Homo sapiens: one gene and its partners. The protein of the gene in region 1 purifies or fractionates together with the protein of each later gene. This does not show direct contact. Each region holds a gene or a part of one and is shown in the gene's direction. Other genes may lie near its edges. The genes, in order: UBE3D, TSC22D3, PPM1A, CPSF4, BORA and SUFU.

Region 1 (2,960 bases):
CCTGTCCCTGTAAACTGTCTATGTAGAAGCAGAATGTCGCCTGCCAGGGATGCTGCCCACAGTGAGCCCTAAGTCAGACTCAATGACTTCTGGTCTTCCTTCCTCTGTCTATTATAACAGGCTCTACTGGCCTCTCTTCTCATCTGGTATATTCACAGGCTTCTAATATCTCTTGTCAGCTGAGAGACAGGGGAAACACATGGATTTTCCTAATCATTATTATTAAGTTTTGAAGGGAAGGTGAGGGTTAAAGACAGAGGGAGTTGGCGGCTCTACAGAAATGCAGGTTTTATGTGCAGCACAAGACCTGCAGAGGTGGGGGACCAGTTAATGCCAGCCAGAGCCCACCGCTGCTTACAGGCTGGGGTACTTATAGGTATGGGTGGGAGGGGTCTGGGCAGTATGGCTTACCGCCCGGCAGGATATTGATAAGATGTTCCTATGATCAGGCGGTTTGGCCCTTTTTCCAGTGGGATGTCATAGGATGTTCCTTGGGCCTTTGTCCAGCAAGATATGATAGCAATGTTCCTTCAGTTGGGCCTTTGCCTGGCAGGGTATGATAAGAAAGTCAGGTGGTTGGGCAGGATGTTTCTCATGGTCCGAACCCCCATGGAACGTTTCACTTTGACCTGGGACTATGAAATGGTTGGGGGGGTGGGGGCGAGGCTTACAAAATGGTGCAGCTTGAACTAACAATGATCTCATTTGAGCTTCACAGTAAGCTCTTGAGGTTTGCATCAATTGTCCATGTTTACATTTTGTTTAGGAATCAACCTTTCCTCTTTGCTGCTCCTTCCAATTTGGTGTTCTCTTGATAGAGAAACTCAGCAGGAAGTTGATATGGAAACTCAGCAGGTGCCTTTCTCACCAGCACCGTATGAAGGGTAACATCCTTCTGAATTACTCAGCATAAAGCAGATGCTTTCTGCCCTGTGTGACCCTCCCTTTACCTTTTCTTTTAACAGAATAGTTAAATACACACCTCTTTTTACTGCATTCGGGGACTTAAGGACAAAATTTCCTGATGCAATTGACAGATGTCCCATACTTCCCCAAGAGTAGAATGTTTTTACTTCTGTTGCTCACGCCTAATACGAGCTTCCCAAGCCTCCCATACTTCACGATCTATCTCTGCTCTATACTTGACTCTCTTCCTCATATTGGCACAGTTCCCAATTTATTGTCACCCCTGAACTAAACCTTTCTAAACATTTATGATTGACTTTGTTAAGTTTGTTTCTGTTTTCAAAACTATTGGGAAATTAGATGCATTTGATCTAGGCCTCATTACATAGTCTGAAAATAGTTTGTTCGTAAGACTGTGTGAATTAATTTTTTTTAACTCTAGGTTTTAAGATGAATTGCTGCTGACCAACCAATATAAGTGAAAGTATCACAATGACCTAGGAGAGACTGGTATAATTACCTATAGGGATGAGGACCCAGAATCGCCTAGGAATGAGACTCAGAATTCTAAATATGGAAGGTCCAAAACAATAGTTGTGAATCGATGGAAATGAGGACTGGATTACTTCGTAGCAATATAACTTTAGTTTCAATTAAAACTCTATTTTTCTCCTTTAAAATGCGTGTGAATCATCTTAATTACTATATGGTTCATTAAAAAAAGACTAATTGGCTCCTGCTGTAAAATAAAATGTCTAGATCCACTAAGAGTCATTTTTCTGTTTAAACAAGCATATGATCTTATTGACCAGACTTAACCTGATTCTGATTTGATGTACATGCAGCCATTTTGTCATATTATAGAAGTAAAGCATTGTGGGTTTTTCTTCCTTCTCCAGGTGGCCTTTTTGAAGATGTAACTATTAGAGCTGGGCATTCTCCTCCCCCGGCAGACAGCTCTCAAGCAGGAGCACACCGAGGCCAGCAGTCAGCTCAGGAGGCATCAATTACAAAGACAAGAACCAGAGCTATGGGATAAGAGCATTGCATTGAAGTTTTAAGTTTACTTGTTTGCATGTATTCTCTAAGAGAAGAGTTAACTTTAGATCTTTGAAAACCCAGGACTGTGAAGAAAGTCATAGTAGCAGGTTGAGGCAAGTGTAGAAGTTACATCTCTATTTCCCACAGAGAGGAATATTCACATATGTGCAGTGTCAGCACCACCTGGAAGGTTATTACCTAATGGAGATCCATCTGTCCTGTGTGGAATCCAGTGAGGAATTTTATTGGTGGAACTGAATGTTAACTGCTGTAAATCCTAGGAAATAAACTTTTAAAGAGTTTCTCAGGATGATTTAAAACAAATTTTAAAAAAGAAAAGTAGAAAACATTTTATACTTTATTCAGAGGAGATGCTCAATAGATGTTTGTTGAATGAATGATTATCAAATTAAAGGATTTCCTATTTATGCAAATCTGCATGTTTCTTTTGTTATTTCCTTTACCATACATTATTGCAAATTAATAAATATACCTCACTAGCATCCCGTTACAGAGTTGTTCTATTCTTTGTGTACCAGCACAAGCGGTGAGGAAACCTTTCAGTGAGAAGGATAGAGCTACAGGGAATCCCACAGAGTACACGCTAGCTCCTAATTTCACAAGGAACGTTTGAGACTTGCCTAGAATCACACAGCTAGGATCAAAGCTGGGACTGGAGCCAGGCATGTCCATCTCCTCTGCCCAAGATCTGATCCATCTCTCTCTGACATCCTCCTTTCCTACTCCAGGATCAGGAGGACAGTCTGTGGATTTGCAAATATCCTTGCTGCTCAATTGGCATTAATCTCCACAGACCACCTGATATATCTTGCCTCAAAAACCCTGAGTTTTCTATCCGCAAATTTTCTAACACTTTTTTTTTTTTGAGATGGAATTTAGCTCTCGTTGCCCAGCTGGAGATCTCGGCTCACTGCAGGCTCCGCCTCTGGGGTTCAAGCGATTTGCCTGCCGCAGGCTCCCAAGTAGTTGGGATTACAGGCACCCACCATCAC
Region 2 (3,508 bases), on another chromosome or scaffold:
CCTCAAACTCCTGGGCTCCATCGATCCTCCCACTTCAGCCTCCCAAGTAGCTGGGACTACAGGCACACACCACCATGCCCAGCTAATTTTTGTATTTTTTTTTTATAGGGACGGGATCTTGCCATGTTGTGCAGGCTGGTCTCAAACTCCTGGGCTTAAGCGACCTGCCCACCTCAGCCTCCCAAAGTGCCAGGATCACAGGCATGAGCCACTGATCCCCTCTTGTTTTCCTTGACAATTGGGACCTTAGAGACTGGGGATTCTGAATTCGGTTTAGGTTTTGCCCAGTATGACATGCTCATTAGCAAACTAGAAGACCATTATTGCTGGTCATGGGGCTTCTCCAATATCTGGGGTAGACAGCCTTCTCCTAAGTGAACATATCCCTTGTTACTTCATTAAATTCCCTGGGTTTCTATCATCATACTTCAGCCATCGTTTTTACTTCTATTCAATTTAATGATTTGACATTTCAGGTTCCTGTTGGGTGCTTTTTTCCTTTGTCAACTTTCAAGGCCTCTCCTGCTGGAGAAGCTAGTCTCCCACCCCTCCTCCTGCAGTCCATTCCTTTGCCAAGAGGGCTCCTATATTTTTAGGAAGAAGAGCAGGGCACATTCTTGATTTACATCTGGTTTGTCTGCTTTGACCTGTCCCTGGCTCCCAGCTTCGTTCTTGGTTTCCTTGGAACACAAGAGTATAAGCAATTTGAGGGTAGGGCTGTGTTTTACTTGCTTGGTTTTCCCTTGGCTTTTAGTTATACAGCCAATATTCAATAAAGGTTTCTTCAGTTGGATGACTACTTAAATATTGACGTGGTCCCTTGTAAAGATTTTACAACTTTATACTGTGCTAGAAAATCCTTATTAATGTTTAAAAGTTGTTTTCCTTCCGTTTTAACCACATGCAGTAACTCTCATAGCCTGATGGAAGTCCTGATAGTGCTGTGTATATACATACGAATCAGTGAGAATGGGCATGCAGCCTGTTGGTATGTAAATGGTACCTGTAAACAATTGGGTTGGGGAAGAAGTGTATTTTAAACACCATCCTTTCAATCTTGTATTATGTAACTAATAACCATAACAGATTAATAACTAACACTTCTTGAACATTCACAATGTACCTGCATAATCTAATTTAATATTTACATCAACTCTTTGGAATGGATTTATTTATTTATTTGTTTATTTATTTATTTATTTTGAGACGGAGTCTTGTTCTGTCGCCCAGGCTGGAGTGCAGTGGCACGATCTCAGCTCACTGCAGTCTCCACCTCCTGGGTTCAAGCAATTCCCCTGTCTCAGCCTCCTCAGTAGCTGGGACTACAGGCGCACGCCACCACACTCGGCTAATTTTTGTATTTTTCGTAGAGATGGGGTTTCACCATATTAGTCAGGCTGGTCTCGATCTCCTGATCTCAAATGATCCACCAGCCTCGGCCTCCCAAGGTGCTGGGATTACAGGCATGAGCCACTGCGCCCGACCAAATGGGTACTATTATCATCCATTTTCATTTTATAAAGAAGGAAATTGAGGCTTGGAAAAAATTAAGTATCTTGCCCAATGCCTCACAATGAAGAGCAGAGCCTGAATTGTCTATGAAGAAAGAATTGTTAAGAACACTCAGTAACTAAACTAATGCTAAAGAAATTCTTGTAACACTTAAGAATTGTCTATGAAGCAGAGGTAAATGTGAGCTCAGAACCTTTCCAAATGGTCAAAATGTCCTTATTAGGTAGGGAAACCAACCATCCCAGTCCTGTGACATAGGACTGCCTGTGCTCAAACTGGAACAGTCCTAGGGAAACTGGGATGGTTGGTCACCCTGTTGTTAGGGGACTTCCCCCTTGTCATTTGAATATGCTTCTAATACTGGAAAACTTAGGAGGGAGATAGAATATTCTGGGCAAACAGCAGAAGTTTCCAATTTAAATGTAGCATATGAAAAAGCTTCCCAAGTTGACATTTGAAGAGCCTTCCTTAATTTTTCTGACCTGTAAGGTATAACAACCTGTAACAGGAGCTTTGACAGTATTCGTTGTGATTGCTGTTGCTGTAACCTCAAATTTTTTTCTAAGATTTTACCCAAAACCTCTTAATCAGCTCTATTCTACCTTTGACCCCAGAGCGTACCTGGCTAGTGTGGTCTGAAATACTCTGAATCCGATTTCCCTTCCAGCTCTAAAAACCCTAGGATTCTACCTTTAAGCTTCTGACCTGGCCCCAACTGGTTCCCATATATAAATGCTCAGAAAATGATAAAAATAGCAAACATTTCTAATTGCTTTATGTGTGCTAATTCATTTAATATCCCCTATTAATATAGTAACAAAGGGGAAGGATATAGATTCAGAGATCAGGTTTTCAAGAAAAATTTGTGCAAAAAATTATTTGTGCTTCTCTAAGTGAGTCTCAGAACAAGTAATTTCATAATGTATATTCCTGGACCTGGCTTCTGAGGTGGTGGCCACTCACACGGCATGATTTGAGTGGCTGCCTGCTGCAGTGCCTAAGTTCATACTATTTAAGATTCAGTTCTCTGTCCATGTACCATCTAAAATTCCTCTCCCAGAGCACCGCTGGTATGTAGACCACACTGTGAGAAACCCTGTATTAGAGATTGCAACGCATTGTCAACTAATTTACCATTTGATTTTGAGGATGGAGTTACTCGCTGTAGAGCGGTTTTGGGTTTCTGTGTGGTTAAGCCTGTCATTCTTTGCCTTTGTGATTTTTGCTTTTGGTATCAAGCTTCAAAAGTCCTTTCATAGCCCAAAGTAATTTAAAATAACTATTTCCTGAGTGCCTAGTGGTCTGACAAAGAATAGGCATTCTTGGATTAAGGGACCTTCTCCATTAAAAGCACAAATGCATTTGCAAACTTAACATTCATGGTTTGGATACTTCATGAGAACTCAGACTGGTAAGAAACTGTGTTTTTGCTGAGGCACAGATGTGAATCACATGTGCAAGGAGACTAGTAGGTGGGGGCCGGTCCTTTCACCAATGAGTGAGCCTGGTGCCCTACCCCACATCTACTAGTGTGTGTGTGTGTGTGTGTGTGTGTGTGTGAAAGAGAAAGAGAGAGATGTATTATATGCATATATTGTACATAGTACATATATATATATAGTGGTAAAATAGATATAAAATTTGCCATTTTAACCATTTCTAAGTGTACGATTCAGTAGCATTAGGTATATTAACAATGTTGTGCAACCATTATCATTCCCAAAATTTTGTCATCATCCCAAACAAAAACTCTGTACCCATTAAAGAATAACTCACCGTTTCCCTATTTTCCCCTCCCACTACCCCCTGGTAACCTCTATTCTACTTTCTGTCTCTATGGATTTGCCTATTTAGATATTTCATATAAATTGAATCATACAATATTTTGTGTCTGATTTCTTTCACTCAACATGTTTTAAAGTTCATCCATGTTGTAGCACATATCAGTACTTCATTCTTTTTATGGCTGAATAAAATTCCATTGTATGGATATACC
Region 3 (3,508 bases), on another chromosome or scaffold:
CCATCTCTGCAAGAGTTATAAGCTGAATGTTTAGTCTTACTACTTGAGCTTTGTAATAATGTGGAAGATTATCAAAGGTAAAAAGATTTTATCAGAGTGCATGTTTTGAAAGAAAGAGGGTGGGGAGGGTTAGGCCTCAGTGTCTATAAATGAAAAGCATTTTAGAGTTTTAATATTTGACCATGTGATATCTCAGTACATTTATGATATCCTAATCCTTTGAAACTAAGGTTTAATGGTCTGTAGCACTTGAAAGAGGAATGTAGTGATCATTAGACGTGATGTAATAGAAATAGCCTTGTACATGGAGTCAGAAGAACTTGCTCTGAGACTGTGTATGGTTTTAGGTAAGCTATTTAAACTCTAATCAGTTTTTTTCATCATAAAAAGGATAAGACATTATTATCTTGTCTCATGGCGTTGTCAGGAGGATCAAATGGGATAATATACACAGGTGAGCTAGCTCAGCCCCTTTATTTTACAGATGAGGAAGCTGAAGCCAGAGAAGGTTCTACAAACTTAAGAGTCAGACAGACCTGAGACCAAGGCTTACCTCTATTAGTTTTGTACTCTACATTCCTGAACGAATTGTTCAACCTCTCTCAGCTTTAAAATGGAGATAATAGTATCTTATAAGACTGTTGCCGGGCGCGGTGGCTCACGCCTGTAATCCCAGCACTTTGGGAGGCCGAGGTGGGCGGATCACGAGGTCAGGAGATCGAGACCATCCTGGCTAACACAGTGAAACCCCGTCTCTACTAAAAAACACAAAAAATTAGCCGGGTGTGGTGGCGGGCGCCTGTAGTCCCAGCTACGCGGGAGGCTGAGGCAGGAGAATGGCGTGAACCCGGGAGGCGGAGCTTGCAGTGAGCCGAGATCGCGCCACTGCACTCCAGCCTGGGCGACAGAGCGAGACTCCGTCTCAAAAAAAAAAAAAAAGACTGTTGAGGAATTAATGAGCGTATGTATATATATATATATGTGTGTGTGTATATATATATATACATATATATATATATAATGCCTAGTTTAGCATATAATACATGCTACACCCTTTCCTACAGATATTATAAATGACGTGTACAGGGTTTTATACATTGCTAACAGCATTAAGACTAGAAAATCAAGGCCCTTGACTTGGGTTCAGTGTTCTTTCTGCCACACTCTGTTCTGTTTTGTCAATAATGCTTATTAACTTATTCTTTGATGTTTTTTTAAACAAATGTTGACTTTTTAAAATTCTTCTGAGGGTATATATTTGATACTCAAATATTTAATTATAGCATTTGAATACTTAGATGTCTTTAAAAATGAATGTAGTTCCTAAAAGTTGTCAGTTTTTAAAATTAATACAAGTTAAAAGCTGGTTTATAAACCTTAGGTAGTTTTACCTCTTATTTCATATTTCTACTTATGAAGCGAATGTATTAGCCCCACAATTTATAATTTATTTTAAAGGTAATTTTATCAGGTACATATAACTACAGGTCAAATCCTATTGTAAACAATGCCACTAAAATTTTCTGTCATGTTGTATGGAAGGAGTGTGTGTACACATGTATATTTGTATTAGGTATCACTTCAAATTAAGTCACCAGTAAATGTTTAGAAATAGTATTGTTTTATAGAATTATAAAAAATTATTATTACAGTGAGATTAACCTGTAATGTTTCTCTCCTGTCTTTTGGAGTATTGGTTATACTGTATTCTCTCTATACTGTTCGGGGGAGGGGGAGTCATTGCACACACACACGCACGCATGCGTGCACATATGTATTTTTTTCTCCCTGAAAGTAACATTTTCACTAGAACAAGTATAACTGTAATTGGCACAGCTGTAAAGGTTCTCAAGGCTTTGAAGAGCAAAAAGAAAACTAAAATATTCTCAAATTTTTTTCTTCCCAGGGAAGTCGAGACAACATGAGTGTGATTTTGATCTGTTTTCCAAATGCACCCAAAGTATCGCCAGAAGCAGTGAAGAAGGAGGCAGAGTTGGACAAGTACCTGGAATGCAGAGTAGAAGGTGGATCATTTAACAAAAAATAAGTAGCTTTATTAAAGAAAAATCTTCAACACAATCAAACTTTAACATTTTAGCTTTTAGATTTTTATGTGTCTTTGACAGCTAGTGTCTAGTGTATGAAAGTGGAAAAGGACATTTCTGTAGTAGCTGTTAAGATGTATGCAGTTGTCCTATCACAGTTATATTAGAAATAACAACTAGTGTGGAAAGTAACCCACATTCTGTTCAGGATACTTTTGTTTTAAAAGGCTAAAATGTTTGTGTGCTTTAAAATTCTTAATGAATTCACTGGCATGAGTAATTTTATGCCGGGAAAATCTGATTTGTGGTCTATTTAATTACAAAGAGATTGTGATGGTGATAATTTGAATACCATCTTTCTATGAAAAGCTGTGTATATTAATTTTAATCTCTAGGGCCTTTTTTCAATAACTTGAAAATCACAGCCTCATCATTAGCAACTTTATATACACAGCTTTAAAAAATTTGCTTTAAACTGTTTCAGAGCTTCTTCCCTAAGCCATAAACTGTCTCACCTAAACAAGATAGACCTCAATAAAAGACATAATATTTCTCCACCTGGCAGAAAAGTAACTGCCAAGTAAGATTAAGAAATAAGTTGAGCATTTCTGGAGTATATTTCTCATAATTCTGCAGAGACTTCCAGTTTATTGCATATATGCAGTAAAGTGTATATATTATGCAGTTTCTCTAAGTGGAAAAACTTGACATGACTTTAATAGTGTTAAAACATGAAAATGCTGGTGAGCTGAGGTAGAAAAAAAACAAGAAAAAAATTTTAAAAATAGCGTTAAAATGCATTTTAGGCTCCTAATGTCGTTAATTTGCACGTTAAAGACCTCTAATCGCATGCAAGCATTGACCTACCACACCTACATCCCACTGTGCCTGCATTATTGAAATTACTACTCACTTTAATTTTTTTTCCCCTTTTTACTGTTTGATACCAATCATAATCAGTCTGATACTAGAATCATGATTGGTTTTGTTCTTTAGTACTGTCTAGAGCTACTATTTTGTTTTTATTGCTGTCCGCCACTTGATAGTCATACATCTAGTATGTGTTTGTACTATTTAGTATTGCATTCATTGGACGTACTATTCAACGAATTTGTCTCCTTACTGTTACCAAGGGTCTTGGAATTTTTATATTTTAAATTAATCATTCAATATAAGTTATTTATAGGTATAGTACAATTTTAAAATATTTAGAATGCTACAATCATTGGTTCAAACTATTGATTCATGGGAAAATTTAAATTCATAAGAATAATATGTATAGGGATAAGTTGATATTTAATGTATTGGCACTTTAACTTGGGCAGACATGTTTTCTTATTGGTTTAAAGAAGTAATAAGTATTTTAATATTTTTACTATGAAATGGGATCCAATTTTAGAAATGAATTGCTACTTTTCTCTTTAGTGTGTACACTTTAAGTTTTAGATGGAATTATGAAATAT
Region 4 (3,508 bases), on another chromosome or scaffold:
AGTGGCCTGCGTGGAGAAGCGGGAGCCCGGGTGGAGTCAGTGGGGCTGGCACGGAGTCTGGCAGAGATGTGCTCCCTGCTGGAAGGAGTCCCCAGGGTCCCCGCTCAGGTCTGCACTTCCAGGTTTCCCGGGAAGCAGCTCTGTGGGTCAGCGTGAGGCTGGCTCTGGTCCTGTGCAGGGAGCCCGGCAGGAGGCTGGAATCCTGCAGGGAGCCAGGGAGTGCAGGGTATGCTTCATGCTTTCAAAGCACTGCTGTTGGAGGAGACATTAATTATTTCAGCATCCCATCAGGCGTGGCCTGCTGGCTTATCAATGAGAGCTGTGGCTTGTTTTGTGGAGGTGGCATAAGCTGAGAAGAAATAGGACCCAAGCTTCCCAGCTCCCCAAGTGCTGTCCCTGTCATTGTGCAATGTAGCATGTTCCCCCCGATGCCTTGCCCATAGCAGCACTGGGGCAGCACTGGGATGGGGCAGTGGCCTCCCATCTGTCCCCAGAGGCAGCAGCTGGCTCTCCTGGGCAGGCTCTTAAGGCACCGCTATACAAGTGGCCTGAGGGTCGCTCCTTCCTTGCTGACAGCCCTGGTGCAGGACGCACTGTCTGCAGCTTCTGTCACCTGCACCACAGACATTGGGTTGAGGGCCCCCTTTCCAGGCACTGGAGGGACAATGGTGAAGAGGTCCTTGCCCTGTGAAGCCTTCACTCTTGTGGTCCAGGGAAAGAGGTAGCTGATAGGCCATGAGACGAACAGAGAAGAAATTGCTTGTGACAAGTGCTTTGAAGGAAGGAAACCGTGACCAGAACCTTCTCTAGGCTGAGTGGTCAAGGATGAGGGGATTCCTGAGCTGGAAGCGGAAGACTAAGAAGGGGCTGGTCCTGGTACAGGGGGACCCATGTGGCTGGGGGGTGGCAGAGGCTGAGCCTGCGGAGGGGCCTGGGGAAGGAGTTTGCATTTCCTCTGGATTTTGAGCACAGTTGTAAACATGGATTGGAGAAGGTGAGCCTGGAAGCGGGCAACTACTCAGGAAGGCGGTTCTTGGTGCTGGTGGTCCCTGGGGTCCGCTGCTTTGGAGAGGGCCAGGTCCACAAGTGCTTCCCCTACCCTTGTCCCAGCTCTTAGATGTGAAGAGCCAATCAGAATGGAACTTCCTGGTCTCAATGGGTGCATTTCCATCACAGCTCCGCTGCACAGGAAGCTGGGGCTCAGAAACACTCTTCCCTGGCTCTCAGGGCTCGTCAGGCCAAAACTGGACACCAGAACCTCTTTTCCTTGGATGAAGCCAAGGTGGGCCTGGCCCCGGCCTTCCCAGTGGTCTCACGTCTGAGTTTCCCTGCAGGGGAGTGCAGCAACAAGGAATGTCCCTTCCTGCACATCGACCCCGAGTCCAAGATCAAGGACTGTCCTTGGTATGACCGTGGCTTCTGCAAGCACGGTAGGTGCCAGGGTGGGCTGGGCCCCGGGCAAGAAGCCAGTCCTCCCTTCTCTGCCCACGACCCTGGAGGCTGCCAGCTGGTCTACCTGTCCCAGCAAAACCTGACATTCTGCAGCTAGCGGCTTTCTCACACTCCTCATCTCCCTTGCCTCTCCCAAGAATGCTGGGTGGGTGGTGGTCCACCCGCTTTTTTGATAAGGAGGCCAGTGTTGGGAGGTGAGGTCCCTGCCCCGTCTCCCATGAATGGGGGACAGCCAGCATTTGAAACCATGCTCCAGCTCTCTAACTGGTAGAGGGGACATCTAAGTGACCGGACACTTGGCTCTGCAGGTCCCCTCTGCAGGCACCGGCACACACGGAGAGTCATCTGTGTGAATTACCTCGTGGGATTCTGCCCGGAGGGGCCCTCGTGTAAATTCATGCAGTGAGTAGCCAGCTGCTCCGCCCTCTACCCCAGCTCCCGGCCCAGGCCCTGCTGCCCTCCGTATCTTCCCTGGGCCAACTGGGCCTTGGTCACTGGGTGATGTCAGTACCAGGGCCAAGGGTGGGGGCAGGAGATGGGGAAGTAATCCCTGCTTATGGCCACCAATGCTTCCTGAGCCCGCAGGTGGCTCTGCCTAGACCAGGAGCTGATCTTTCTTGGGTCATGGGCCATCTGGTAATGTAATGGAAGCTGTGGGATACAGACAAACATGTAGCCTTGCATATCATTTAGGGAATTTGGGGACTTCCAGTTAAGAACCTGTGCCCTAAAGGAAAGAATTTCAGAGCCTCCCATGTGGAGGCTCAGGAAACCCTGAGCTTGGGGTTTCACATAGAATAAGTAGTCGTCTAACAGTGAGGGTAGGAGAGAACGCACCCATTTCACACAGCAGCACACTGAGGCACAGGGCTCAGTCCCTGGCCAAGGGCACATGGTAGCAGGTGGTGGCACCTGGTCAAAGGCAAGTCTGGGCTGGGTGTGGTGGCTCACGCCTGTAATCCCATAACTTTGGGAGGCAGAGGAAGGCGGATCACGAGGTCAGGAGTTCGAGACTAGCCTGGCCAATATGGTGAAACCCCGTCTCTACTAAAAATACAAAAATTAGCCAGGTGTAGCGGCGCGTGCCTGTAGTCCCAGCTACTTGGGAGGCTGAGGCAAAAGAATCACTTGAACCCAGGAGGTGGAAGTTGCAGTGAGCCAACATCGTGCCACTGCACTCCAGCCTGGGTGACAGAGCAAGACTCCATCTCTAAATAAATAAAATAAATAAATAGCAAGTCTGTGAGCCTCCGAAGACGGGTTTTAATTCTTGCTCTGTGGGGTTAGCACCCCTCTTGTGGCTCCATTTTCTTGTCCTTGGAGCCCAGTGCCCATCTGTCACTTTGGTTGTGGACCTGGGCTTCTGCCTGGGGTGGCACTGGGGCCACAGACAAGCCTCCCTTCCTCCCGGCTGCCTCGCCCACACTGCTGAACCTACAGCAGGATAACAGTCTCCAGGTCTGTGGGAACCCTGGTCCCTGCTTCTCACTGCAGGGAAGTGGCCGGTGCTGTCACTGGGTCTCACTCCCTGAATGAGAGTGCAGGCACCTGCAGGTGGCTCAGGGGCAGACCGTCACCAAGTGATGGGAGGAGGGGCTGACGCCAGAGTAAGACCCTGCGGGGAGGGGGGCTTCCCTGTGTACAGCTCCTGTGGCGCAGCAGGCACGCACCAGCACAGCCTTTGTCATTTCCGAGAAGCACTGGCCATGAGTCTCCCAGCTCGGTGTAGGCAGGGTTGGGTCTGAGCCCAGGCAAGTCAGTTCTGTTCTCCCCGCCACTCCTGTGGCCTCCCAGGAGCAGAGCTGAGTGCCAGCCACCACCCCATCCATGCAGCTTGTGTCAGTCACTTTGTGCTGGGGCAGCTGAGTGTGATTTTCCTAGGGCTGGAATTTAAGAGCATGGCCTGGCTTCTCTTCTCATCCCCTGACCCCACTCCTTCTCTTGTTCTCATCCCCTCTGGCTGCTGGTGACCAGCCCTCGATTTGAACTGCCCATGGGAACCACCGAGCAGCCCCCACTGCCGCAGCAGACACAGCCTCCAGCAAAGGTACCGTGC
Region 5 (3,508 bases), on another chromosome or scaffold:
ATTTGTAATTCATTGATATGTTTCAATTGGAGTTGCTAACCTTTTTTTTCCTGTTAATTTCTAAGATACCTTACATATTGTGGTTATATTGGTCTTAAACATTTCAAATGTTATCTCCCATTCTGTCATATGTATGTTACTCTTTGTTCTTGATATCCTGGGTTGCATAGAAATTTTTATTTTGGTGCAGTCAAATCCATCGATTTTTTTTTTTCCTCATTTGATTGTGGTCTTAAACTTGTCTAAGCCCTTCTAGGGGAAGCAACCAAAACACTTGGAATAGAGTTGAAAAGTGATGTGATAATGTTGCTGTAGGTGTCTTTCTGGTCTGAGGAAGGCAAGGAAGGCATGCTGGCAGAAGATAAAATTTAAGCTGAGATTTGAGTTAGACTCTTGGAATGCAGGGGAGAAAAGGCAGGGAGGAGAGAGCATAAGATAATACCTAGAGATGAGAGAGATACCTGTTTCTTGTTTGTTTGTTTTAGGTACTCAAATAATATTTAATTAGATGGCAACCATGCTAGAGAAATAGACATGGTTTTGAAAGGCTTTGTAAGCCATTGAGGTGTTTGGATTTTATCCTAAAGACTATTGCAGGGTTTTAGGCAGAGAGAGTATTGATTACATCTGCCTTATAGAAGGTCACTCTGCATGCAGTGACAAAGTCATCTGCATCCAAAATTTTCTTTATTTACCCGTTTTGATAGTATTTCACAGGGAAATTTAATTTATTCAGCAACCCACTTACCCATTTTAAAATTTAGAATTGTTAGGTTACTACACTCTATTTTGTCATTTTATTTTAGAATTCCTGAGTTGTTTCTGGTTTTGGGGGGAGGGGGGGTTTGTTTGGTCCCCTTGCTTTTTCTTCCTTTTATCTTACTTATATTAGTCTTTTTGAGATGGTTTTGGTTTTTGAGTTTTTTTAATCTGGTGATTTTTCAATTTATAAAACTTTAGAGTTAAAATAATTTGCACCCATATTTTTAACTCTTCTTGTGAAAGAAACTATATGGTTTTATTGATCAAATTTCAGGTTTTGTCAAAATAATCTGGCATTTTAATCTGTTGAGGACATTGAGGGTAGCTAAAAGGTATCCCTAACCTTTTAAGGTTGACGTCATGAAGAGTAATCATCATTTCCTTAAAAAAAAAACATTACTTTGGGATTCATCAGTCCTACTACTGGGTATTTATCCAAAGGAACCAAAATTACTATTTCAAAGAGATACCTGCACTCTCATATTTATTGCTGCATCGTTAATCACAACAGCCAAGATATGGAGTCAACCTAAGTGTCCATCAACAGATGAATGGACTTTTTAAAATGTGATATATATATATATACACACACACACACACACACACACACACACACACACACACACACAAAATGGAATACTATTCAGCCTTAAAAAAGAGGAAATTTTGTCATTTGTGACAACATATATGAATCTAGAGGACATTATGCTAAGTGAAAAAAGCCAGCCACAGAAAGACAAATACTGAATGATTTCACTTATATGTAGAATCTAAAAAAGTCAGACTCTTAGAAGTAGAGAATAGAGTGGTGGTTACCAGACGGTAGGGAGGAGGGGTGGTGGGGGAGATGTTGGTCAAAGGGTACAAAGTTTCAGTTAGACAGGAGGAATAAGTTCTGGTGATCTGTTGCACAGCCAGGTAACTATAGCTGATAATGAGGTATCATATAGTTCAAAATTGCTGAAAGTGGATTTTAAATGTTCCCACCACAAAGAAAAGTATTTGAGGCAATGGATATGTTAATTAGCTTGATTTGCTCTTGTCATAGTGTATACATATATTGAAACATCACATTGTACCCCATAAATGTATACAATTATTTAAAGAAAAATGTAAAAAAAATATTGCTTGGTGACTCCTTATTTGCTGTGGTAATCCTTTAGTTTTATCCTTGTATTCCCTCAAAGGTAAAAAAATAATAGAAACATACCAAAATATATACTTATATATGCAGATTTTTTTTAATGTTGCAAAATAAGTTTCCACTTTCTTAATTTTTTACTTTGGAAAAAGTAATGCTAAAGCAAATGAAGAGTATAAAACATAGGATTTTTCACTTAAAATGTCTTACAGGCACTAACATAAATAGTGACTCTCCAGTTGGAAAAAAGCTGACCATTCATTCTGAGAAAAGCGATGGTGAGTATGAACACAATTTGAAAAGAAGGATGTTCCATATTAAGCTACATTGAATTCTAAACCCAGTTCAGGTAGTAACACTTTACTCTGGAATTGAAATTGTTTCCTTTTTTTTTTTTTAATTTATTTTTGTTTTTTTGAGACAGGGTCACACTCTGTCACCCAGGCTGGAGTGCAGTGGCACAATCAAGAGCTCATTGCAACCTTGACTTCCCGTTGACTTCCCGAGCTCCAGTGATCCTCCCACCGCAGCCTCCTCAGTAGCTAGGACTACAGGCACCCGCCACCACACCTGGCTAATTTTTGTATTTTTTTGTAGAGACAGCATTTCGCCATGTTGCCCAGGCTGGTCTCGAACTCCTGGGCTCAAGCGATCTGCCCACTTTGGCCCCCCAAAGTGCTAGGATTACAGGCATGAGCCACCAAGCCTGGCCTGTTTGGATTTTTTCAATGAGCTACATAATAACCATATGAGAGCTGACCTTTAAAAACAAGTATAGTAGAACAGATGCATCCAGCCATGTTTTAGAAATAGCACTAGTGTTTTGTTTTCTTGTTCAAAGCATGTGAATTGATTTCTGGTCTTGGAAAGCATTCTTTTGAAAATTGGTTAATGTGAGAAATCTCCCCCCAGATATAGGCTGGCTTCCTTTTCAAGTGCCAGTACCAGAGCCAGGAGTTAACTTTTACTATTAACACGTTTACACCAGTTGCGGAGAGTGTGGGAAACCACTTCTAGAAAGGTGGCAGGGTATGTGATAGAATGCAGAAATGAATAATTCCATTTGGCTGGAACATCACGGGGAGATGATTGACTGGGCAGCACATGCTGAATTGTATAGTGTATACTTTCATTGATTTATCCCATGTTTGAATTTGTTTATTTATTTGCTTGTTTCCAGCTGCTTGTCAGACATTGCTGTCTCTTCCTGTGGATTTTAATTTAGAAAATATATTAGGTAAATACTGTATTTGTTTAAACTTTTAATAACTTGAACCAAAGGTTTTGTTTGGCTGGCTTTTTGTAAATGGTAACATGGGAAATATGTGGCAGTGCCTCTTTCTAAAGAAGTGGGGAAACTGCCCTGAAATTTCTCTTTTTCTTGAACATGGTTTGAACTAGCCTTATTATCATAGTGAACTTTATTACTATAGACAGAAACTATAAACATTTTATTGATATTATACTAACAATGTAGCACTTAAAAACTAAGGAATAATTTAAGATGTAAAACATCAAATATGCAATTAAACTTTGCCCTCTTTTTGGGAAAAAATTCAAACATAGTGCATGCTGGCTTCTTAAAAGTTGAGTAACAGAAGTATA
Region 6 (3,508 bases), on another chromosome or scaffold:
CTTCCTTCTCCTGCCTGAATGAACACTATTGAGGTTAGGACCAATAACTGAAGCCGTATCTTGGATGGAAAAGGTGTGTCTGTGTGTGTATGTGTGTGTTCTGCCTTACCTTAAATATTGATAAAAAGTGAAGAAAGATACCTCAACTGTTGAGATTCCGAGATCGTGAATGACAGACCATAGTGAACTCTGGAACAGCCATTTAAAGAATGAGATAGCTCTCCATATGCTGAGAAGCAGTGATCTCTGCTGGGTGCTGTGGCTCATACTTGTAATCCCCGCACTTTGGGAGGCCGAGGAGGGCGGATCACGAGGTCAGGAGATCGAGGCCATCCTGGCTAACACCGTGAAATCCCACCTCTACTAAAAATACAAAAAATTAGCCAGGTGTGGTGGCACATGCCAGTAATCCCAGCTACTCAGGAGGCTGAGGCAGGAGAATCGCTTGAACCCAGGAGGCGGAGGTTGCAGTGAGCAGAGATCGCGCCACTGCACTGCAGCCTGGCAACAGAGCGAGACTCCATCTCAAAAAAAAAAAAAAAAGGTGATCTCGTGCTCACTTCAGCAGCACATATACTAAAATTGGAACGATACAGAGAAGATTAGTATGGCCCCTGCGCAAGGATGACATGCAAATTCGTGAAGTGTTCCATATTAAAAAAAAAAAGGTGCTGTCTAAGATATATAATTAAGTGAAATCTGCAGAATAGTGTGCTTCCATTTGTGTAAGGACAAAACATGGAAGGGAGCCTGTGGATGCATAGGCTGGACATATAGAGCACCTTGGCACCCACGATGAGAGTCAGAGCTGGTGAGAGACTTAGTACCCTGTGGGGTTGTTTTCCCTTGTGGTTATGTGGCCTTAAACAAAACTCTCTCTAAAGTAACGTACCTGCTTGAAGTGCAGTGGTGAGCCTGTGTGTGAGGAGGCTATGCCCTCATGGCAACAGCTACCCTTGGCAGAATCTGAACATCTCAGAGACATGGCCTGAGGATCCTCATGAGTTGTCTCTGCCACGGTGTGGGAGGCACTATTTAGACCTCCATTTACTTGAAGCCTAGTGTTCCTCAGGAATTCCTACATCTGCCTGTGGGAAAATGGTGATAGATTTCAAAGGCTCTCCAAGGTTCGATGTTTCCTTCTGAGTGCCATTTCAGCAACATAGGAATTTCGGTCTGTTTCTCCAAGGTGAAGGGCTTTCATTGCCCTGTTGCCTCTCTGTGGACTTCTGGCCAGGTGGCCCTACAGAAAAGCACCTTATTCTTTCTTGGCAGATCCAGTCATGGCTCCTGCCTCCCACCATGAGTCGGGATATTGGGGAAGCGAAGCAGATGCCAGAAGTCTTTCTGGTTTCCCAGGCCGAAGGAGCTTTCACACTAATAGCCTGTCCTTTTCAAGTCTGACAGAACTGGCAAGCAGGAACAATTTAGGTTTTTGGAAATATCCACAAACTCTTTGCTTCCATCCGGAGTGAATGCTTCTCTTCCTTCACAGGGGCTACCCTAAGAGGCTGGGAAGCCTCCCAGCCTGGGCTAGTGAGATCCCAGCCCAGATTCCAGGCCTGGATCTGGGGCCTTGAACAATGAGGATCCTTGTATCTCTCCCACAGAGAACACCTTCTGCAGTGGGGACCATGTGTCCTGGCACAGCCCTTTGGATAACAGTGAGTCAAGAATTCAGCACATGCTGCTGACAGAGGACCCACAGATGCAGCCCGTGCAGACACCCTTTGGGGTAGTTACCTTCCTCCAGGTGAGGCACAGGTTGGACGCTGGCTCAAGCCTTCCTGTGGGAAGGGTCCTGGGAGGACAAGGAGGCTTGAGGAGGGGGAGTGAAGGGAGTGGGAGGTTTCCTTTGGCCTCGTCCTGATTTCTGTTTCCTCTGATGGTTTGTCAGGTAGATTCAGATGGTCTGATTTAACCTGCTGAGATGGGAGAGGGGAGAAAGGGAAGGGGGCATTTGGTTGGGAGAGAATGGCTGTAGCTGAGAGGGAGTAATGGGGTGGCGGGTATTCTTTGAACAGTGAAGACCCAGTCTCAGGAACAGGACTTTCCAGCGGGAAGCCAGCTCTGGGTCGTCCTTGCTCTTTGCCAGAAGCTGTGGGAACCTGCCCAGCTTTGACCAGTGCTTGTTTTTGGTCACGAAGTCTATGTGAAGGTTCCACTGATTCCCTTGATATTTACACAAAGGCCTATCCCCTAATAAGGAAGGGAGGAGTTTCTCTGCAGGCTGCTATGACCTATTGGTGGTGGTTCCAAGCCTGATAGGTCTCAAAGTCTCTTGTTTACATTCCCCATGATACCAGACTGGGTAGGAATGGCTCCCTGAACCTCCCCTACTTCCAGAGACATGGCCTGAGGACACATCTTGAGTTGCTCAGGCCTTGGTTTTCTCCTTTGTAGCTAAGAGCTAGACTTGGTGTCATCCAGACACAGCAAGGGCAAGGGTCAGGCCTCAGGGCCCACATGTGGACCCAGCCATTTCCCAGCCAGGCAGCCACTCCCTCCTAAGGGAATCATCCAATCTTGGCTGCACCAGCTCCTGAGCACAGATCCTGCCTGTGGTCTCCCAACTGGAGGTGACTCAGAGAGCCTGGGTAGCTGACCTTCTTGGGGTGGGGGGTGGCCATTAACACACAATGGGCTTTCTATCCTGGGCCTCAGATCGTTGGTGTCTGCACTGAAGAGCTACACTCAGCCCAGCAGTGGAACGGGCAGGGCATCCTGGAGCTGCTGCGGACAGTGCCTATGTGAGTACCCATGCAAGGTGGGAGCGCGGCTCCCTGGGCCTGGGGGTGGGAGTCCCTCCACTACCCTCCATGTGGGGCTCCCTCTTGCGTTGTTATTTCAGACCCTGGTTTTTCACATCAGGGCTTCCTGACGACTCACTCCCTGACAGTCCCTGACCACGAACTATTCCCCTGTGTCCTAGGCCTGGGGCAGCAAACAGGGCAGGCTGTAGGCCCAGCCCATCAGCCCCAGACCCTCAGTTACCATTGTATCCCCTTTCCTTGTCCACAGTGCTGGCGGCCCCTGGCTGATAACTGACATGCGGAGGGGAGAGACCATATTTGAGATCGATCCACACCTGCAAGTATGTCTTGAGTGAGGAAAACCTTTCTAGCACCCTGTGCCTAGGCCTCTTCCAAATAACACTGGCTTTCATCCTGGGAAAACAGAGGACCTTTATGTGTGAGTGAGTAGAAATATGGCATCACTTGGAACTTGTCCCCTGAATTCTGCAGAGCACGTAGGGAGCAGAGGTTTCAGCCCAGGAAAGCTAGTCCTCAGACATATGTATTTTGGCATTTTAAAAGGATATTTTTATTGTATGTAAATTATATATTGGCTTAAAAAATTAGATTGCCAGCAATAAAAGATAAGTGTAGTGGATATTGCTTGCTTGCCCAGTATTCATTCTCCTGCCTCCCAGACTTTCTTTTAGGGAGCCACCACGGCCACCACCGCCCTGTACCAGACAGTAGTGTAGGTGATACTGACTCCATGG

Evidence for each region.
Region 2: the proteins of UBE3D (region 1) and TSC22D3 purify together in Homo sapiens (affinity purification with mass spectrometry; one large-scale study listed by BioGRID and IntAct). This does not show direct contact.
Region 3: the proteins of UBE3D (region 1) and PPM1A purify together in Homo sapiens (affinity purification with mass spectrometry; 2 studies listed by BioGRID and IntAct, with this or other methods). This does not show direct contact.
Region 4: the proteins of UBE3D (region 1) and CPSF4 purify together in Homo sapiens (affinity purification with mass spectrometry, with the first as the bait; one large-scale study listed by BioGRID). This does not show direct contact.
Region 5: the proteins of UBE3D (region 1) and BORA purify together in Homo sapiens (affinity purification with mass spectrometry; 2 studies listed by BioGRID and IntAct, with this or other methods). This does not show direct contact.
Region 6: the proteins of UBE3D (region 1) and SUFU purify together in Homo sapiens (affinity purification with mass spectrometry; 2 studies listed by BioGRID and IntAct, with this or other methods). This does not show direct contact.

The regions. Positions count from the first base shown.
Region 1 is NC_000006.12:82,891,888-82,894,847, reverse strand, and holds the end of UBE3D (E3 ubiquitin-protein ligase E3D), read left to right. Parts: intron 1-766; coding exon of another isoform or gene 767-884; exon of another isoform or gene 885-1,805; coding exon 1,806-1,826; coding exon of another isoform or gene 1,827-1,945; 3' UTR 1,946-2,458; downstream 2,459-2,960. UniProt on the Homo sapiens protein: E3 ubiquitin-protein ligase which accepts ubiquitin from specific E2 ubiquitin-conjugating enzymes, and transfers it to substrates, generally promoting their degradation by the proteasome.
Region 2 is NC_000023.11:107,769,280-107,772,787, reverse strand, and holds part of TSC22D3 (TSC22 domain family protein 3), read left to right. Parts: intron 1-3,508. UniProt on the Homo sapiens protein: Protects T-cells from IL2 deprivation-induced apoptosis through the inhibition of FOXO3A transcriptional activity that leads to the down-regulation of the pro-apoptotic factor BCL2L11.
Region 3 is NC_000014.9:60,283,718-60,287,225, forward strand, and holds part of PPM1A (protein phosphatase 1A), read left to right. Parts: intron 1-1,906; coding exon 1,907-2,024; coding exon of another isoform or gene 2,025-2,047; exon of another isoform or gene 2,048-3,508. UniProt on the Homo sapiens protein: Enzyme with a broad specificity. Negatively regulates TGF-beta signaling through dephosphorylating SMAD2 and SMAD3, resulting in their dissociation from SMAD4, nuclear export of the SMADs and termination of the TGF-beta-mediated signaling.
Region 4 is NC_000007.14:99,448,942-99,452,449, forward strand, and holds part of CPSF4 (cleavage and polyadenylation specificity factor subunit 4), read left to right. Parts: intron 1-1,176; coding exon of another isoform or gene 1,177-1,322; exon of another isoform or gene 1,323-1,328; intron 1,329-1,334; coding exon 1,335-1,430; intron 1,431-1,760; coding exon 1,761-1,854; intron 1,855-3,411; coding exon of another isoform or gene 3,412-3,426; coding exon 3,427-3,499; intron 3,500-3,508. UniProt on the Homo sapiens protein: Component of the cleavage and polyadenylation specificity factor (CPSF) complex that play a key role in pre-mRNA 3'-end formation, recognizing the AAUAAA signal sequence and interacting with poly(A) polymerase and other factors to bring about cleavage and poly(A) addition.
Region 5 is NC_000013.11:72,741,422-72,744,929, forward strand, and holds part of BORA (protein aurora borealis), read left to right. Parts: intron 1-2,115; coding exon 2,116-2,181; intron 2,182-3,083; coding exon 3,084-3,140; intron 3,141-3,508. UniProt on the Homo sapiens protein: Required for the activation of AURKA at the onset of mitosis.
Region 6 is NC_000010.11:102,590,972-102,594,479, forward strand, and holds part of SUFU (suppressor of fused homolog), read left to right. Parts: intron 1-1,610; coding exon 1,611-1,753; intron 1,754-2,664; coding exon 2,665-2,750; intron 2,751-3,021; coding exon 3,022-3,094; intron 3,095-3,508. UniProt on the Homo sapiens protein: Negative regulator in the hedgehog/smoothened signaling pathway. Down-regulates GLI1-mediated transactivation of target genes. Down-regulates GLI2-mediated transactivation of target genes. Part of a corepressor complex that acts on DNA-bound GLI1.